2 separate regions of the Homo sapiens genome follow, and region 1 is linked to region 2. The links come from fine-mapping of genetic effects on gene expression. Tissue or cell type: lung. Region 2 holds a variant in brackets; the other region holds the start of a gene. All regions are shown on one strand. Distances are between the middles of the regions. Region 1 holds the start of ADAM23 (ADAM metallopeptidase domain 23). Region 2 has its middle 20 kb from the start of ADAM23.

Evidence for each region. PIP is the estimated chance that this variant, and not a neighbour inherited with it, causes the effect.
Region 1: ADAM23 starts here. The variant in region 2 is fine-mapped to the expression of ADAM23 in lung (TOPMed, PIP 0.97).

The regions. Positions count from the first base shown.
Region 1 is chr2:206,439,389-206,450,006 of GRCh38, forward strand. It overlaps ADAM23 (ADAM metallopeptidase domain 23), which reads left to right and starts at 4,144. Exons shown (of 26, transcript NM_003812.4): 1 at 4,144-4,692; 2 at 5,919-6,136. The coding sequence starts at 4,479. RefSeq lists a silencer at 4,589-4,718.
Region 2 is chr2:206,418,095-206,428,712 of GRCh38, forward strand. It overlaps the pseudogene HNRNPA1P51. Among named protein-coding and RNA genes, the nearest start is that of ADAM23, 20 kb to the right of the region's middle. The variant T/C (reference allele first, on the strand shown) is at 4,640.

The sequences.
Region 1 (10,618 bases), 21 kb after region 2:
TTTTGAGAATTTAGTGACTACTTACTGATTAAACAACTATCTAAATTACAATGGAGAGCAATCTTTTCTAGAATTAGAGCCCTCTATATTGTGGCACACGCTTCCTTCGCTTTTTCTGCTTATATGCACAGGACATAATACAGTTGATGAAAAAAATTTAACCTTACATATATATATATTTAAGGTGTATATATATAGTATATATTATAAGGTATATATATTTAAGGTAAATATATATATATATATATATATATATAGAGAGAGAGAGAGAGAGAGAGAGAGAGAGAGAGAGATTTAAAAATGGCTAGCTGACAAACCAGGTCCTGTAGGCTGCATGGTTTTCACATTCTTAGAGGTTTGTAAAGAAAAAAAAATGCAGCAGAGACCATATGGCCCACAAAACCCAAAATGTTTATTATCTGGCCTTGTACAGAAAATGTTTGCTGACTCCTGAACCACGTGGCAAGTACCAATAACGAAGCACACTCGCTTTTTACTTTCATGAAGAAATGCATTGTCTTTTCTCCTTTGAAGTATCCACTTCCGCTGGTAAAATCAGTCTTCACAGCTATTCTAAAAGGAGGCTGAGAAACCTTCTCTAGCTGGCTCTGTAACACAGGCTGTCCCAGCGAGCTCCTGGGTATAAGCTGCTCTTGAGCCAGAGCTGCTGTTTGAGGCTTGTTCATGCTCTTGCTTTCACTCCCTAGATCTCTCTTAGTATCAGCACCATCCACTAATTTGCTGCACACCTTCTTTGACCTTGACTTTTTGGGCAAATGCTTATTCCATTCCAATTGCTCTTGTAAGTCTGCTTTGCTACCTTCCCCTGCTTTTTTACTTATTTTACCCTCTGGACCTCTCTTCTGTCATCCCCTTCTTCTACTTTCTCCCCTAGCATCTCAGCCCTCTTGAGGCCAAGGCCTGCTACATCTAATATTTCTATTTCTGTCCTTTGCTTGCTCCTGTCCAGACCCAGTCTTCTCACTGGTTGCAAAGTGGGTCCAGTTCTACCACTGGAAACAGATTTTGGCAAATAGAGACCTTCTGATCTCCTCCCTCACCAGACCAATGGACCATTTTTGTGAACAGTATGACGACCCTTCCTGGGTATTGCTCACATGCACCCCTCATGGTGCTTACCTAGGGTCCATATTGCCTGGTGTAATTTCCTTCCCATGGACCTTCTGGCCACCTGCCTTCACCTACGACTGCAGCATTTCTCCATGTCTGCCACTGTGACTAGATCACTCCAGTGATCCTCTGATGGCCTTAGGATCCAACACACATTGGTAACCAGGGCCATTATAGCACTCAAGCTTCTGGTATATTTCTTTATTCCAGTCCATCTTGCTGAATCCCTCTGTTTCCTACCTGTGAGTGCCCCTCTATGAATGCTGATTTGATTCCAGGTACTATACTAGGCTGTGGAGTCAGAGATGACCAAGATACAGCCTTGCTCTCAGTATTTTTTGATGGAAGAATGATGATATGCACATACACGAATACAGAGCAAAGCAGTAGGTGGCAAGTGATTAAGCAAGTCACTAAATCTTATGAAAGCACAGAGGGGAATATTTAGAAGTAAACTCTATAAAAATAAAAATTCTGAACTACCTAATAAGAATATTACTAACTCTACCAAGTTGACCAATTAAATTATTTAATCAGTTAATATTTGATTCTGTTTTTAACCTTCCCTTAAATATATGGCTTAAAGACTAAACTTCCAGTAAATTTTTTCTAAGTAATGTACTCTTTCTCTGACTCATTATTTCATTTATTGATATCTTATTTTGACTCTAGCAATGTCTGTAACCATTAAAGTTCTGTAAATAAATGCAGTCTTTTGACTATAGTACATAAGACAACATCCCTCTTTGTAAATACCCCAACCCCTTATTAGAAACTATATTGAGGCCAGGTGCGGTGGATCACGCCTGTAATCCCAGCACTTTGGGAAGCTGAGGTGGGTGGATCACCTGAGGTCAGGAGTTTGAGAACAGCCTGGCCAACATGGTGAAACCCCGTCTCTACTAAAACTACAAAAATTAGCCGGGTGTAGTGGCACGTGCCTGTAATCCCAGCTAATCCCAGCTACTTGGGAGGCTGAGGCAGGAGAATCGCTTGAACCTGGGAGGCAGAGGTTGCAGTGAGCTGAGATCGCACTACTGCATTCCAGCCTGGGTGACACAGCAAGACACCATCTCAAAAAAAAAAAAAAAAAAAGAAAAAAAGAAACTATATTGAATCCTCATTCCATACCCCAAGTGCATGAAATGATGTGTTGTAACTGGTGGGTGGGTTTGGTCAGTCCAGGTTGGCTGATAGGTTTATTTATCAGAACAGACTTTAAGAGGTTGTCACTGAATTGCAAGAGATGCCTTTCAAGTAACTTGCATCTGGGTGCTTTGCACCTTTCATTTCCCTCTCCCTTCTCATTGCTTGTACATCTCCTTTCTGGCTTGCTTTCTCTCAGGCCCTTTTTCAGGATGCATATTGTGTCAAATATAAATTTGGAAAACCTAGCCAGAGAATACTTGACTTGAGGGAGACAACCCTAAGAACATTGACCTGCAGTGGGCACTCCGGTGGGGCTAGAGTGTTCACTAGCCTGCCCCAAGTGTGACTTCTGCTTGTGTGTATCACCCATTTCTTTATTCATTTAGTACATATTTTCCAAGCGATTTCTCTGTGCCTCAGACACTGTGTGAGGTCCTAGGGACACAATGGTGTGCAGAAGGGAAAACTGTTGTTGCCCTCACATGGGGGAGGTAGCAACAATTACAAATTTACAGGAATAAATATGTGATAATAATATCCTAGCTCAACATAGAAAGGAAGTTATCTCAGTATTTACCTAACAGTTTTGTAATGTGTGTGTGCGCGCGCGTATATGTCTTCTTCTTTTCTCTTTGTTAAGTGTGAGTGGAGAAGATGATGGCTAACACTGAGTTCTGTCATGGCCATGGCACTTTTATACCCACATTCTTTCTTTTAATCATGGAATTCTCCACCCCAGCCCTCACCCCGTGGATGTCGGAGTAAGACAACATTGTTATCACTCAGATTGTCATTGGGAGGGTGAATAAATGAATGCTTGCATTATGAGAGTTTGGGGGCAGAAATATGCCACAGACTCTTATCTGAAGCCATCAGATTTAGTGGCTGCGAACCCACCGAAGTCAGGGATTTACATTTTTTACAGCAACGAGAGAAAACTTCCCCTTTCCTCTGCAGAAGTCAGGACTGGATCTCAAAAATAGAAATGTGTCCTCCTAAATGTGTGCCCATCCCCGTGGTTGACAAACAACGGATTTCCCAAGATAGCTGCCACACACTTGGTTTCTAATCTCTGTATTGCTTCCCCGCCAGAATGTCGAAGTCCTTCCCGAATATGCCCAGTCATACTTTCTGAACTTTTGAGCAAACACCGTCCGGCTTCTTGTGCTTTCCTCAAAGACCCCAGGCACCGGCAGGGAGGACACAGGCCGGGGCAGAGCGCCCCTGCGCGGGGGATTCCTGCCACTCCGCGCCAGCCTGCGGCGCAAACGCTCTTCTCAGCCGCAGTCCCACCCGCTGCTGGCAATCTGAATGAGGAGCCGCGCTATTTTTACCTCCCCGGCTGCAATCCTTTATATTTACATGCAGGAAGCAAATATATAAGGGATTAAGAAGGAGATGCGTGGCCTTAGTTTATCCAGAGCAGGAAGAGGTTGGAATAGGAGAGGGTATGTGAAGTCTGGGGTGGTGGAAAAGGCAGGTGGACTTCGGCTGGTTGTTTTCTCCCGATCATCCCTGTCTCTGGCCTGGAAACCCCCGTACTCTCTTTCTTCTGGCTTATCCGTGACTGCCGGCTCCCCCTCCACCGCCCCCATCTTTTGAGGTACCACCCGTCACCTCCGATGCTGCTTGGGCTGCTGCATCACTCTGCTGCTTTACCCCCTTCCCCGCCCCCCAACAAAGCATGCGCAGTGCGTTCCGGGCCAGGCAACAGCAGCAGCACAGCATCCAGCAACAGCATCAGCACCCGAAGCCCCGCTCGGGCGCGCTCTCGGGGGGCGGGGCGCACGCCCGCTCCGCGCGTCCCCGCGCCGCTCGCTCCCGCGCGTCCCCGCGCCGCTCGCTCCCGCGCGCCGCCTCAGCATCCTCAGGCCCGGCGGCAGCCCCCGCAGTCGCTGAAGCGGCCGCGCCCGCCGGGGGAGGGAGTAGCCGCTGGGGAGGCTCCAAGTTGGCGGAGCGGCGAGGACCCCTGGACTCCTCTGCGTCCCGCCCCGGGAGTGGCTGCGAGGCTAGGCGAGCCGGGAAAGGGGGCGCCGCCCAGCCCCGAGCCCCGCGCCCCGTGCCCCGAGCCCGGAGCCCCCTGCCCGCCGCGGCACCATGCGCGCCGAGCCGGCGTGACCGGCTCCGCCCGCGGCCGCCCCGCAGCTAGCCCGGCGCTCTCGCCGGCCACACGGAGCGGCGCCCGGGAGCTATGAGCCATGAAGCCGCCCGGCAGCAGCTCGCGGCAGCCGCCCCTGGCGGGCTGCAGCCTTGCCGGCGCTTCCTGCGGCCCCCAACGCGGCCCCGCCGGCTCGGTGCCTGCCAGCGCCCCGGCCCGCACGCCGCCCTGCCGCCTGCTTCTCGTCCTTCTCCTGCTGCCTCCGCTCGCCGCCTCGTCCCGGCCCCGCGCCTGGGGGGCTGCTGCGCCCAGCGGTGGGTATGGCCCCGTGCCCTTTGCGTTGGCTTTCCCGCGGGGCCCTGCAGAGGAAAGCGAAGGGCGCGCGGGTCCGTGTGCTCCGGGCTTGTCCCCGGCTCGGCCTTTCCTTCCCTCCCTGCCTGTCTTTCCACCCTTCTCGTTCCCAAACCCCCATTCATCCCAGTTCACTTTTGGAAGTCCATTTCTGTTGCATTCGCGAAAAACCCATTCCAATTCTTGTTGGTTCCACTGGGAGGTGTTTAGTGGATCCTGGGTCCCTCAGCGATCTCTGTGCAACTTGCGGAGGGGCAACCAGTGGATGGGAAATACAGCGAGGGAGCAAGTTGCTACTTGCGTGGTGGAACCTTAATGTGAATGCGGGGAGGATGTAGTGATAATAGTGGTAATGGGCTGTTTCCTCAAATTTCGTATCCGGCGCATTCAGTGCGGTTGGAATTAAGGTGGGGGAGGCACACTTCGGGGACCAAAGAATTAAGGTGCTGAAGACATACTTCATGCACGACCTTTGGTTCTGATTTCTCAAAGTGCTTGTCATTATAATGAACAATTAATATAATACCATCTTCTATATATTGATGATTGGAAGTCACTGAAAGCAGAAAGCTGGCTTTGTCAGGAAAATAAAAAGAAATTGGGAAGCTGCCAGCATCTGTATCCCTACATGGCAAAGTATGTTTGCTCATCTTAAAGTTAAAAGAGAAGGGAATTGTCCATTTTGTTAAAAGAGTCGATTAATATTCGGTATCCATAAATTCAGTACTCAAGTTATCTTAGGAGCGTTCTTAGCTCTTGGATGGGATGCCACTAGGCAGAGTAGAGTTGTGCTTCTGTGGACTCAGAGAAGGGGTGGAGATCGGGGGCAGGACCCCTGAACATGTTCATTTAATGACTCTTCTTCCCTCAAGTTCATTCTACCCCCCCCCCAACACTTAGAAGTATAGATTTGAGTCTGACTAGAAATGTATATATAAGACATAAATCAAAATAAATAGTGCACAGTTGTATAAGCCTTATTGGCTATTTATTAACTTCTCCAGGCCATTTTATTGTTGAAATAACTTGCTTTACTCTAGCTCTACTTCTTAACTGCTTATAAATAGAAAACTTTGTGTTTGAAATTAAAGGAAAAATGCATTTTAGTGCTTATGTATTTATGGGGTAAATATGTGTGTGTTTGTGTATGTTTGTATTTTCTGCTCCCCCACCCCCCTACCTCCACCAGCTCCGCATTGGAATGAAACTGCAGAAAAAAATTTGGGAGTCCTGGCAGATGAAGACAATACATTGCAACAGAATAGCAGCAGTAATATCAGTTACAGCAATGCAATGCAGAAAGAAATCACACTGCCTTCAAGACTCATATATTACATCAACCAAGACTCGGAAAGCCCTTATCACGTTCTTGACACAAAGGCAAGACACCAGCAAAAACATAATAAGGTAGGCAGGAGGCTGGCTATGCAAAAGTAACTATCATGAAGAGTTTTCCTTTGATTTGATTTTCTGCCAGAATCTGAGTTCACAAATTTTACTGCAGCATTTTATTAAGAAAGCAATTAATATTATGATAGGGGAGAAACTGGAAGGAATTAACTTGGGATCTACTGGGATAAGACTGTTGTTTCTCTTCTCTGACTAAACTGGAACTAGAATTTTCTGATACCTGAAATGATATCCATGTATCTTTCAGGTACATTGGGCACTGAACAGTAGTTAAGTGAATGTGTTTATGATTCTAACTTGTTTCTGTGAGGCTTTATGTAAGGGTGCAGTATTCTGCCTTGATATAAAACTGTCTCCCATGATATAAAAACTGCTTTCAATCTGCACATGCAAGATTGCTTCAAGAAGCTATTTGGCTGCAGTGTCTCCATCAGTCTTTCCACTTAGAAATTGAGTGTTTAAACAGTCTGTTTCTTTAATTGATCAGTAGGAGGAAAAAAAAATTTTCTGTTGTATTTTCAATAGGTAAACAATTTGACATTTAAAAAGATTATGGTGACTAGACACAAATTATTTGCATAATATGAAGACCAATTTTGATTGGCATAATTCTTCAGTACCTACTCTGCATTGATTATGAGCAGTTGCTTTACTTTCAGGTTAGTTCAGAAAGTGGAACTGATATTTACCAAGGTATCAGTAGAAGACAAATGTTTAATATCCAAAGAGTTTAAGGGATCTTTTTCCCTGTGTTACTATTCTTTACTTGAATTAATATTATTTTGAACCCCGAGCAGATTTAAACAATGGATTATCGGTTCTTCTGTTGTTTATCGGGAGCAGAAAATAGAGTCTGTATGTTAAATGTTTCATTTTGATCTGTACTTGTTCAGGTGAGAACAACAGTTAGCAATTAACTGTCTAAACATCTAGAATTTAAGAAAGTATCTGCAGTTTACATCATTGTTTTTTATTAGTTTTCTAAAATATAGGTGAGTGGTAACAGTATTTATCCCCATTTTACAAATGGGGAGCTAGAAATTTAAGGCTTTTGGGTGATTTTCCTATGTTGTAAAGCAGCTAATATAAAATTCAGGTGACCTGAATGTTTAATTTTTACTATTTTTTACAAGTTAGGTCTCTGAGAAAGTGCTTTCTTCACCTTGAATATTACTGGAGAGGTGAACTTTCTTTCACATTATTTTGAAGTGGCTGCTACCCACCGTGAGATAAATGTGTCTCTGTTCTCAGCCAGCCCTTTTCTCCATAAGCTCCTATATAACTTAATGGGGTGACTAATAGGTCATGTCTAACTCATTTGTCTTATTGATAGGAGAAATGGGTGTTGTCTTTAAAGAAGAGAAATCCAAGGCCCTTTTGATAAAATGCATTGAGGCTTTTATAGCTTTCCTTATGAATGAGACCTTTTAGAGTTAAGTGGTTAGTTCTCAAACTCCAGCACCTTTGCTTAGGATGCTGGAGGAAGGAAAAACAGCTGCCTCAAAGCCTGTTTCAAAGAATGCTCAAGCCCTCCTCAGCAGAGACTTGAAATTTCAGTGGCACTTTTTAATAACTCAGATGTTTGAGGCTATGACTAATGCTTGCCTTATAGTTTAACCTTATGTGGCTGTTTTCTTTGGTGGGACGTGGTTTGACTGTAATATACCTGACTTCCGTGATAATAAGGTTTGTTAAACCTGTACCCACCGCTTACCTAGAGGAATAGTTGGGTTTCTTTTATACTGTACTTTGAAAAGAATGTTTCTACAGAAATCGTATTTGAAAGCATTTTTCTTATTAGTTTAACTCTATAAACATTTGTTGCACCTTTCTCATATGCAAGCGGTATGCTAAGTATTCAAAGATAAGAGATAAAGGTTAAAAGGATGAAAAGACATGATCTATCCTCCAGGAGGCAGGAAAATGAGATAAGCAAGATTCTAAAAGTGCTCCCGTACAGGTATAGACAGTGTTGTTGTTTGGTGGGTGCCTTGAAATTACCCTTTGTGTTCTGTGACCTCCCTTTTACTTCTGTTTTTAAGCATCTCTTGAAGTAGTTGATAAAAAGTGTTCCATCTGCTTTCTGCTGTATCTTAGGATGACTTGCTTAATAACAGTGATGAGAGACACTTGCCAGTTCTGCTGCTTTAGAAATGTTTCAGTAAGAAAGTATAGAATTTCATTTCTGCTTTTATGTAAAGAAGTTTTTAATATCTGTGTTATGTACCTTTTTTTCCCTCTCCTGATTTCATTGCACTGAAGCACATTTTAATGAAAGCCTTAGAAATGCTGAATCACTGTGCCTTTCTCATGGATCCCTAGACTGGGGGTAGAGGTGGAAATGGAAATTCCCAAATATAGGTTGCAAGGCCAAGCTCCACATTTATGTCTGAAGAAATTTCGTAAATGTTCAATGTTGATCAATCTTTATTACTTTATAGCTGTGAAAGTTAACATGTTTATTAACTCTTCCAGAATTGGTGAGTGTAAAAGCAGATTGTGCAAACCACCTCTTTGCATCCTAATGTTTCTGAATGCCTTAATGTTTCTTTGTCAAACAATGTTGAAAAATCTTTTTTATCTGCATAGAGTGATGTATAACCAGTTGTCCAAACTGTGCCATTTTTTAAAGTAGAAGTGGGCACTCCTAATAATTATGCCAGGTTAGTAGGCATAAACCAAGGTAGTCTAGAGCAGGCAGGGAGTTTTGACACCTTGGATCCAAATGCTGTATTCCTTGATTTTTGGTGCTTACTCAAATTCAAGATTCTTTAAAGACAATTTTATTTTCTGATGATTTATTATAAATTCTTTCTTGCTAGCTAGGAAGTCAGATTCCTGCCGTGTAGCAGTATTAGGGTCTGAAATGGAAAAATTTAATTTTGCTTTGTGTGATATTGTGAAATGTATTTGGTAATTATCCTGTTTCCTGGTACACAGCTTCGAAGACCGTTGGAATCTCCAGAGTGATGAGTGTCTTTCATATGCCAATGAGATGATGGGTGGCTGGGGGTCCCTAAATAGCTTCAGGATGGGAGCTGGTCACCAGAAAGACCAGCACATTATTAGAGGTTTGGGATTTGCACCCCACAACCCCAAAGAGAGAGGCAGAAGGTTGAGTTGATCACCAATAGCCAGTGATTTAATCAGTCATGCCTATGTAAGGAAGCATCCATAAACACCCAAAAGACTGGGTTCTGGAAACTTTTGGATAGCTGAACATGTGGAACTTCCTGGAGGGTGGAGTTCCTGGGGAGGGCATTGAAGATCCTCGCCCTATGTGTCTCTTCCATCTGGCTCTTCATCTGTATTCTTTGTAATATCTGTTATGTAAATGGTAAGTGTAAGTAAAGTATTTCCTGAGTTCTGTGAACCGCTCTAGCAAATTAATTTAAGGGAATTGTGGCTACCCTAGTTTATAGCTGATCTGTCAGGAGCACAGGCCTCCATCTGGGGCTTGAGATTGGCATCTGAAGTGGGCATTTGTAGGCTTGTGGGACTAGGCCTTCAACCAGTGGATCTGACGCTGTCTCCAGGCTAAGAGTGTCAGAATTGAATTGGAGGACATCGAGGTGGTATGTGATGGAGAATCTGCAGAATTACTTGGTGTGTGGGGAAAACCCTCCCATACGTCAGATGTCAGAAGTGTTGGGTTAAGTGTTGTGTGAGACTAGAGAAGGAAAAAACATTGCTTTTTTCTTATATCTCTTACTTTGTTATCAAGATCGATCGTTTTCACTTGTGGAGACTTTTATGGGCGTAAATGGAATTGTATGATTACTAAATATAAGCATTTTATTAACCATTAATGCAATATATTAATAAAATGGACCATACATTTTAAAAGCAGGAGAAACACTTTAGATTCATTCATTCATTCTGAGATAATCCTATGTGGTCTGTTCCTAGGAGAGTTAAGGAAGCTTTTCCTGAAACTTTAGTCAAAAACTACTTGTCCTGCTGGGCGTGGTGGCTCATGCCTGTAATCCCAGCACTCTGGGAGGCTGAGGCGGTTGGATCACCTGAGGTCAGGAGTTTGAGACCAGCCTGGTCAATATGGTGAAACCCCATCTCTACTAAAAAAATACAAAAATTAGCCGGGCGCAGTGGTGCGCACCTGTAATCCCAGCTACTCGGGAGACTGAGGCATGAGAATCGCTTGATCCCGGGAGGCGGAGGTTGCGGTGAGCGTCACTGCAGTCCACCCTGGGCCACAGAATGAGACTCTGTCTCAAAAAACAAACAAACAAAAAACCCCCCTAAAAAACTACTTGTCCTATATCATGCTCCCTTAGGATTCTCGTCTCTTCTGGTTGGGAAGGGATTGTGGAGATGCACGATGCATAGCACCGGACCTTGGGGAAAGCTGACTTTAGTTGACCTGTGTGGCTCAGTCTTTTGCTTTCTCTACTACCTACCACCCCAGGTTGAAGAGAGAAGAGAGAGAAGTTTAAGTGAATTTAGATCTTGGTGATTATT
Region 2 (10,618 bases):
CAGTCTATCATTGGTGGACATTTGAGTTGGAAGACCTCTTCTGTTCTTATGGCCACTCCATGTGGCCTCTGTCACGGGACTTTTTACGTGGCAGCTTAGGGTTTCCCAAAGCCAGCATTCCAAGATGGAGGAAAAAAAAATCAGTCCATCCTTTTAAAGGCTAGGCTTAGAAATAGTGTAGCATCACTTTTGCTGAATTCTACTGGTTAACTCAAGTCACAGGCCAGCCCAGATTCAATGTGGGAGGGTTTTATGCAAGGATATGAATACTGAGTGTCATGGTACAATGGATGGCCATCCTTAGAGACTAGCCACCACAGTCCACCCTCTGTTTCTCAATAATGTATGTCCTTCCTTCATGCAAAATACATTTTTCTCCCTTCCAAGACCATTGAAGTCTACTCATACCATGGCATCAGGTTTGGGCTTTAAATCCAGGATCATGTCATCTGAATCATATCTAGGTGAGCTTAAGGTTTCTTGGGTTCAGCTATCGTCAACCTGAAGACTGATGAAGTAAAAAGACAAATAATCCGCTTCCCACCCAAAACACAAATACAATGGCTAGGCAGTGATGAAAAACTGAAATAGAAATCCCATTCATGAAAGGGAAAACAGGAAGCATAGAGCAGTCACTGGTTCATAGCAATTCTGAAATTAAGTTGAGAAAATTTTGCCAATTCTTTGACCAAAATTCATTTCTACTCCCTAGAGTGGTCCTCTGTGGCTCTTGGTTCCACCATTTAGGCTTTGTTTTCACCCTCTGAGTCATCTTTCCTTTTGCATAAGAAATGGCCTGTATTTACAGCTGAGTAGCTTCCTCAGCTTTCTTTCTATCAATATAAACCTATGGCCCAGCGACTTCTTTTCATTTTTTTTAAAGACATTTATTCAGCATCACGATCAGACTATTACATTTAGCAATCAATAGCATGGGTGCAAAAAAAAATCTACATTTCAAAATCCTTTGTTGGAATGCTTTACACTTTCCACAGAACAGAAACTAAAATAACCTGTTATACAATTAGTCACAAATACAGTCCTCGAGCTTTTTGCCCATACACATGAGTACTTGTCTAAAACATGTCTTCTTTGTAGCAGCTAGGCCATGCCACCACTGTGTTTTGCTGGGTTCACAAATCTGTTGTAACTTGTAGCTTCCCTGTCACTTCTCTGGCTCTCCTATCCTGCTAAGCTTCTGCCACTGCCATAGCTACTGCTGCTACTGGAACAGCCATAGCCACCTTGGTTTCATGGTTTGGCTAAGTATTGGTCTCCACCACCATAGGGGCCAGAGGTTCTGCCTCCAATCCTCCCTTCATGGGTCCAAAATTTGAAGACTGTTGTAATTGCCAAAGTCATTGTAGCTTCCACCACTTCCAAAATTGCTTCCATCATTACCAAATCCATTATAGCCATCCCCACTGCCACCATATCCACCACCACCATGGCTGCCACCAAAGCCACCACGACCACTGAAGTTTCCTCCATGACCAAAGTTGTCATTCCCACCAAAACCACCTCCACGACCACGACCAAAGTTTCCAGAACAACTTCGACCTCTTTGGCTGGACGAAGCATTAGCCATCTCTTGCTTTCACAGGGCTTTCCTAACTTCACAGTTGTGGCCATTCACAGTGTGGTATTTCTGAATGACAATCTTATCCACAGAGTCATGGTTGTCAAAGATTACAAAGGCAAAGCCCCTTTTGTTGCCACTGACTCTGTCAGTCATGATTTCAGTCACTTCAATTTTTCTACACTGCTCAAAATAATCTCTTAGGTGATGTTCTTCAGTGTCTTCTTTAATGCCACCAACAAATATCTTTTTCACAGTTAAGTGGGCACCTGGTCTCTGAGAATCTTCTCTTGAGACAGCTCTCTTTGGTTCCATGACTCTTCCATCCACCTTGTGTGGCCTGGCATTCATGGCTGCATCCCCCTCCTCCACAGTGTCATATATGACAAAACCAAAGCCCGTGGAGCACTTGGTGTTTGGATCTCTCATTACCACACAGTCTGTGAGTGTTCCCCCATTGCTCAAAATGGCTCCTCAGGCTCTCATCGGTTGTTTCAAAGCTCAACCCTCCAATGAAGAGTTTCCTCAGCTGTTCGGGCTCTTTAGGAGACTCTGACTTAGACATGACAGCAGGAAGAAGAGAGACTTTAACTATGCTTCTTTGGCGGCGTCCACGGGGGGAAAGGAGCAAGCTGATGAACATATATCAGACTTCTTTTCATTTTAAACTATGTTTGCATCTTTTAGTCCAAGCTGATGGTACAGTTCTCTTGAACTGTGCCAGTGTCCTATCAACCTTACAGGGTCACTCGATTAGACAGAAGCCACATACACAATTGTTTTTGAGACAGACCCCCTCTACCTTGGCCTGTGAATCAGGGTGCTGTGGGACAATGTCTTAATATTCTTAGAAGCTCTATTGTCTGGGTGAGAGTGTTTATAAGACATACCATTTAAGGTTCTTAGAAGTCTTTCTGTGTAGATAAAAGGGTCTATGAGGAATATCCTCAACACTTCCTAAGGTCTCAACAAATTGGCTACCTCACTGATGCAAAATTACTCCTGGGATCATGTTTTGCCAGAAGAGTCCTGGATTTGATCTTTGCTGTGAGGTCATCTCTTCCAGGATCTTTTGCTGCCTGGAGGAGCTAGAAAAGAGAAAGTTTTATTTTTGAATCCAGAAAGTCCTAAATTCTGTATATTTTCTCCTAATTTTGGTTAAAAACTGAAGAATTACTTTTTTAGTTCATGTTTCTCCTCCTGTATGTTAACACAGGCAGCCAAAAGAAGCCAGTTGGTGCTTTTGATACAGTCGTATGTGTGGGGAATTGGTTCCAGGAACACTGCAGATACCAGAATGCGAGGATGCTCAAGTCCCTTATATAAAATGGTAGAGTATTTGCATATAAACTATGCACATCCTTCCGTATACTTTAAAACATCTCTAGATTACTTATAATATCAGATACAATGTAAATGCTATGTAAATAGTGGTACTACATTTTAAAAATGGGTATTATTTTTATTGCTGTACTATTATTATTTATTTGAGTATTTTCCACCCATGGTTGGTTGAGCCAATGGATGAGGAACCCGTGGAGGCAGAACCCATGGATACAGAGAAGCTGACTGCATTCTGACTGAAAATCTCCTAGCCAGAGCTATCTGTTTACGACATATTCTTCCTGTCTTCCATGCTACAGGGGATAGTTTTGCTAATTGGTCTGCACATAATTCAGGTCACGTTTTCTCCAGTTTCCAATAGCAATTTCTTCGGTGTCCTTCGAGTCTTCACTATTCACCTCCTTAAGGAGCTTTCCAGCTTCTGCCTGCCACTGAATTCCAAAGCCCATGCCATATGTTTTAGGGTTTTGTTATGGCAACACCCTACTTCTATGAATCAAGTCCTGTTTTGGTCGTGTATTGCTTAAACTTAAAACTTATGAGTACTTAAACAATAACCAGTTTATTAGCTCTCATTGTTCTGTGGTTGACTGAGCACAGCCATGAAGTTCTACTGGTTTAACTGGGATCTTTCTTGTGGCTGCAGTAAGATGTTGGCTGTGGTGGGGGTCAACTGGTGGTTGCAACTGGGATCCCGAGACAGCTAGGTCTCTTTCCTTCTCCATATGGCCTCTCTGTGTGGTCTTTCTAGTCATGTAGCTGTACTTCCTTCCTTCTTTTTTGAGACAGAATCTCACTCTGTCACCCAGGCCTAGGCTGGAGTGCAATGGCATGATCTCAGCTCACTGCAACTTCCACCTCCCAGGTTCAAGCGATTCTTGTGCCTCAGCCTCCTGAGTAGCTGGGATTGCAGGCATGTGCCACCACGCCTGGCTAATTTTTGTATTTTTAGTAGAGACATAGTTTCACCATGTTCGCCAGGCTGGTCTCGAACCCCTGACCTCAAGTGATCCACCCGCCTTAGCCTCCCAGAGTGCTGGGATTGCAGGCATGAGCCACTGCGCCCACCCTAATTACATGGCTGTACTTCTTACACTGTGGCTCTGGATTCCACAAATGGAATGTTCCAAGAGGGAGGAAGAAGCAGCAGCCAGTCCTTTTAAAGGCTGAAATTGGTGCCGTGCCACTTTGACCACTTTCGATTGGAAATCTTAAGTCGGTGTAGGAGAGAACCACACGAGGGCATGGATACCACGAGGCGTGAAATTTGGTGTCCATCTTAGGAGACTAGTTACCACATAGTGTATGTGGCTAGATATTTGCAATTTGAAGTCAGCAGGAATGGAGAAGTATTCCTTAATTATGGACACAATTGTATTAGAGGATCTGCTGTGGTTCAGCTAGGAACATACCTACATACATGCAGGTATGTTTATGAACATGTGTGTGTGTAGACAGATATTAAAAATTTTGAAAATGCATGCAGTCATTGCCTAATAACAGACAATTCACAAAACATACTTTGCTATGTGAGTTAATATGGAGGAAAATGGGAAAGACAAGAAATATTAGCCTGGAAGTGAAGGAATTCCTCATCTAAACCAAGGATTGCTACAGTATGGTAGTGTGACCTTGGACAAGTTCCAGCCTCTCTGGCTCTTAGTTTTCTTATCTTAAGAACCCTTTCCTGTTTAAAATTCTTGGACACTAATCACA[T/C]GTTTTGCTCTTTCTCATATTTCAAGACTGAGTTGAAATGCTACCTCTTCTGTGATGTCTTCCTCCAAATCTAAATCTAATCACATCCTATGCAGAGTGATGTGATGTTCTCAGATTGATGGCCACCAAGTTAGCAAAAACTTTTTAAATGTTTCACCACATCTAGAGAACAAGGGATTTGTGAAATCAAACAGTAATTTGAATTATTTATCTGTGGGCTGAAAACACAAATTTGTCATTTTTTAAGTTTCTGCTTTTCATCATGGATATAACATAGGTGAAGTTCTCTATGTGGATGGCTGTTTCAACAGTTGTTTAAATAGATGTAATTATGGTCGTAAGGTAGACTAACTGCTAAAACAAACAACCCCAACATTTCAGTGGCTTAACATAATAAAAGTTTAGTTTTTGCTCATGTAATAGTTCAATATGAGCATTTGTGGACAAGCAGTTCCTGGGCAGCTCTCCTCTGCTATTTCCTCACAGTTTTTCTTTCCTTTTCTTTTTAATGTCATTGAGGACTTCTCCATTCAACTGGCAGGTGAAGCCAGAGAGACTGGATTGCACATGGAGGTTGTTCTGGTCCAGGTCCAGAAGTGATGTCTCTCTCCTGCCTGCATCCATTGGCCAGAACACAGCCACGTGACTGACTGCTCATAGCTTCAGGGGAGGCTGGGAAATGTAGTTTACCTGTGTGCCCAGGAAAGAGAGCAATTAGATATTGGTGAGCAGCTAGCATCCTCTGCTACAATGTCCTTTCTTCCGTTCTTCATATTTTACTCCACAGCCCTTTGACATTTATTTATCTGTGTACAAATTCTATTTTTCACTTTAATATTAGAGAATTTAGAAAATATAGAAAGGTAAAGAGAAGAAACCAATAATTGCCCATAATAACTCAGTGGTTATTTGGTTATTTTTGGAATATTAATATGTATATATATATATATTTAGAATGGTTGAAATTATAACTTTGCATCACTTTGTAATCTTTTTTTAATCACTTAATAGTGCAAGAGAAGTACTTTCCTATGTCAACAAAACTCTCCATAATTGATGCCTAAAAAGCTTTATAAAATTCCATCTCATGATAATTTACTGTATGAGTAGAAAGAATAGAGAGAAATGTTTGGACAGGTTTCAAAAGACCTAGTGTATCAGCGAATCCCTGTGTTAATGGTAAAGCAGCTCAGTGTTATAGCCTCAGGGTGGGATGAGGGGAAGGAGACTTCTTGCTAAATACTTTCTCTGATATATTGCATGCTCCATTAGAATAAATATCTTAGTTTCAAATTGATAATTCATTATCAGCTAAAATGCTTCTTGAGATTAATTTCTTCTTTTCACTGTCAGCACATTAAAACACAAAGGGATTGGCAGATTATATTCCAAAAACTGGAAGAGATTAATTTTGCCATTTGAATTATTTTGCATTTTGATAGCCTTCTTGGTTTTTTTTCTGTTTCTTTTCACCCGTAAGTAGTCAGAATTGTCATAAACATGGAGCTGCTTATTTTCTAGCCCACTAGAAGTAGTGTTGGACAGTAGCAGGGCTTCCTGATGCTCACACTATCAGATTTATGAAGCGGAAGAAAGATATTCCAGTAACGGGGCAAATTCACTTCCAGGGAGGAAATGCCAAGCAACCTTATTGCTAGTTAATGTCAACATGGATCAGTAGAAAGAAATTCTCCCTGATTATATGCTAAAGGCTGTGTCCTTTTTTGGTAAACTCTCCACATCTGTCATTTCTTGACAAATGAATCTTAGTAAAAACATGTTGAAGATGAAAAAGATAATAAGGAGACATTGTATTTTTATTGTCTTTATGTCTGTTAAACATTGTTTCTTGTTTCCAGAGATGCTTTAAATGTAAAAATTGACATAGCTGTGAGTTGTTGGAATAGAAAGAAAAGTTAGAGTGCAGAAAATGTCAAAGTTTAACTGTTGTTCTCAAGTCTAACAGTGACTGCAGACTAGATTATGAAAATCGAGTTGAATGGGGTCTTTTTCAAGCTACAATGAGACTGTTTTAATCTCACTGACGTTTTTGCCAGAGCTCTTTCTCAAATAATAATTAGGTCCTCCTCCAACTTAGCTTTCCTTAATCTTCTACTTTGAAAATTCTACCAAAATAAGCCTGAGTTAAATTTTGAACTAAAAATCATGAAATTTTATTGCTGTTATCATCATAAGATCAATATATTTTCATTGTTTGAAATTGAAAAATGCAGAAAAGTAGAAAGGAGAATGAGAATTGCTCAATCTTATTACCCAAAAACAACCACAGTTATTATTTTGGAGTTTTCCTTTCTAAATATATATTTTACAAAGGTTAAATGTTGTAGTCATATTATATATACAATTATGCATCTTAATTTGCTTACTGTTATAAGAATTTACCATCTCATTACAGATCCCATAAATATGATTTTACTAAATATTTTATGATTATAAAACTAAGGCAGTATTACTGTAGAAAATTTAGAAAATATAGAAAGGTAGGCCGGGCATGGTGGCTCACGCCTGTAATCCCAGCACTTTGGGAGGCTGAGGTGGGTGGATTACCTGAGGTCAGGAGTTCGAGACCAGCCTGGCCAACATGGTGAAACCCCGTCTCTACTAAAAATACAAAAAAATTAGCTGGGGTGGTGGCAGGTGCCTGTAATGCCAGCTACTTGGGAGGCTGAGGAAGGAGAATCGCTTGAACCTCAGAGATGGAGGTTGCAGTGAGCTGAGGTCTTGCCATTGCACTCCAGCCTGGGAGACAAGGGCAAAACTGTCTCAAAAAAAAAAAAAAAAAGGAAAGTAAGAAAATAAAAGAAAGGTAAAGAGAAGAAACCAAGAAACCAATAATTGTCGATAACCCTATCACTCAGTGATTATTTGGTTATTTTTGGAATATCGATATGTATATATATATTTTTAAATGGTTGAAATTAAAATTTATAAACCACTTTGTATTCTATTTTCAATCACCTAATAGTACAAGAGAAGTACTTTCCTATGTCACCAAAACTCTTCATAAATGATGCCAAAAAACTTCATAAAATTCCATCACATGATAATTTGCCTAATGCCCTATTGTTGTGCAAAATAATGCTGTAATAAATATCTTCAGGTATAAATTTTTATTTTCATTTTTGAATTTTTCCTCTGGAAAAATTCTTAAAAGTCCCAGAGTATGAAAACATTAAGGTTTATGATTCACATTTCCAGAATAGTGGCACCTGTTTGTCTTCCTACCAGCAATGAATGTGTGCCTGTCTGACACTGTCGCCTGCATTTTATTATTTAAAAAAAAATCCATGCAAATGACAGATGAGTATTAACATCAAGTTTCTCTGATCAAGCTGATTCTGAATAGTCAGGACAGTATTCTGAGGACTTCGGCTATTTGAATCTTGCACCTTCCATTCCCTGGGGTTAGAAGGAGCCTGTGTGTTCATGTCTATCTTTCTTTTTTCTTTTGAGACAGAATCTCGCTCTGTCGCCCAGGCTGGAGTGTAGCAATGCGATCTTGGCTCAATCCAACCTCCGCTTCCCGGATTCAAGCAATCCTCCTGCCTCAGCCTCTCGAGTAGCTGGGATTACAGGCGTCCCCCCCACCATGCCTGGCTTGTTTTTTGTGTTTTTAGTAGAGACGAAGTTTCACCATGTTGGCCAGGCTGGTCTCGAACTCCTTGACCTCAGGTGATCCACCCACCTCAGCCTCCCAAAGTGCTGGGATTACAGGCATGAGCCACCGTGCCAGCCCATGTCTATCTTTCAATAAAGATTTTTGAGTGCTAGAACCCTCTGCTAGATTCTAGGGAAATAAAGACAAATAAGCTATGGTCACTGGACTTAAGGCAGAGTTTTTGAGCTGATGTGCATAGGCACATGGTTGTGTTAAGATACTGAGCTTCTTGGCCTTTGGAGCACCTAGATGAGGCCTGAGGTGACTAGAACCACTGGGCTGGTCACTTCTGTCAGACAAGTGAGTGGACTTTGTTGTTGAATCTGATGTGACCAAGGTAGGAAACACTGCCTCCCGATCATCTGGATGTTCTTCTAGGTCTTTGTCTTTCTCAGAACCACAGATTCTTGGGCAAGAACAAATATTTTGTGAGTCAACTAGTCTTTCTTCATTGCCCTCCAACACACACACACATACACACACACACACACACACACACACATATCCCATGCTGCTGATGGTGGGGAGGGCAGAATCACATTCTCTATGACCTACAATATAACCTGGTAAAATACAATATTTCTTACTATGGGCTTAATTAAGCTCTTTGAAAGGCTGCAGGACCACCTTGGGCAAGATTAAAGGCACTACTTTTATTTATTTATTTATTATTATACTTTAAGTTCTAGGGTACATGTGCATAACGTGCAGGTTTGTTACATATGTATACATGTGCCATGTTGGTGTGCTGCACTCATTAACTCGTCATTTACATTAGATATATCTCCTAATGCCATCCCTCCCCCGTCCCCCCACCCCACAACAGGCCCCGGTGTGTGATGTTCCCCATCCTGTGTCCAAGTGTTCTCATTGTTCGATTCCCACCTATGAGTGAGAACATGTGGTGTTTGGTTTTCTGTCCTTGCAATAGTTTGCTGAGAATGATGGTTTCCAGCTTCATCCATGTCCCTACAAAGGACATGAACTCATCCTTTTTTATGGCTGCATAGTATTCCATGGTGTATATGTGCCACATTTTCTTAATGCAGTCTATCATTGATGGACATTTGGGTTGATTCCAAGTCTTTGCTATTGTGAATAGTGCTGCAATAAACATACATGTGCACGTGTCTTTATAGCAGCATGATTTATAATCTTTTGGGTATATACCCAGTAATGGGATGGCTGGGTCAAATGGTATTTCTAGTTCTAGATCCTTGAGGAATCACCACACTGTCGTCCACAATGTTTGAACTAGTTTACAGTCCCACCAACAGTGTAAAAGTGTTCCTATTTCTCCACATCCTCTCCAGCACCTGTTGTTTCCTGACTTTTTAATGATCGCCATTCTAACTGGTGTGAGATGGTATCTCATTGTGGTTTTGATTTGCATTTCTCTGACGGCCAGTGATGATGAGCATTTTTTCATGGGTCTGTTGGCTGCATAAATGTCTTCTTTTGAGAAGTGTCTGTTCATATCTTTCACCCACTTTTTGATGGGGTTGTTTGATTTTTTTCTTGTAAATTTGTTTAAGTTCTTTTTAGATTCTGGGTATTAGCCCTTTGTCAGATGGGTAGATTGCAAAAAATTTTCTCCCATTCTGTAGGTTGCCTGTTCACTCTGATGGTAGTTTCTTTTGCTGTAAAGGCACTACCTTTTAGTTGTAATGATTTATGAGATTTCAGACTCTCCCTAGCTGGGAAGGAACATGGTGAATTGCATTATTCAGAGGGCACAATAAATAACCCCTCAGTTCTCTAACTAGGTTCTGTACAAGTTAAAAGACAGGTGGAGGCCAAAATATCACTCTTACTGATGGAGGACTTCTGTTCTCTGTGGGTATCTCAATCCCAGTAGGAGAAAGGAAATTCCAAGGTAGGAGAAAAGAAAGCTTATGTAAGCATGCCCAGTTTATTATTCTCAAATTTACTCATCAGCTAAATCACTTCTGTATACCAGAGATGGAAACAGTACAGGGACAGAGAAAAGCAGGAGTAGACTGCAGTAGACTTCCAACTCCTTGGAAAGAAACATCAGGAATGGAAGAATCATTTCCTGCCAACAATATGTTAGAGCAGAAGGTACAAACTGGGAGATTTAAATAGGTAACCGTGGGCCAGACCACAGACACACTAAAAATGAAAGGCAGTAGAGACTCACTGTAGATACTTGAGAAGGGGCAAGATGAAGACAATTTAAAGAAAAGCATAAAACAGTAATAGATAAATTCAAAAAGATAGTTCAGAGAGCAAAAAGAGACTGGGTGTATTAGCAAAGGTAAGAGTAAAAGTAAAGGCTT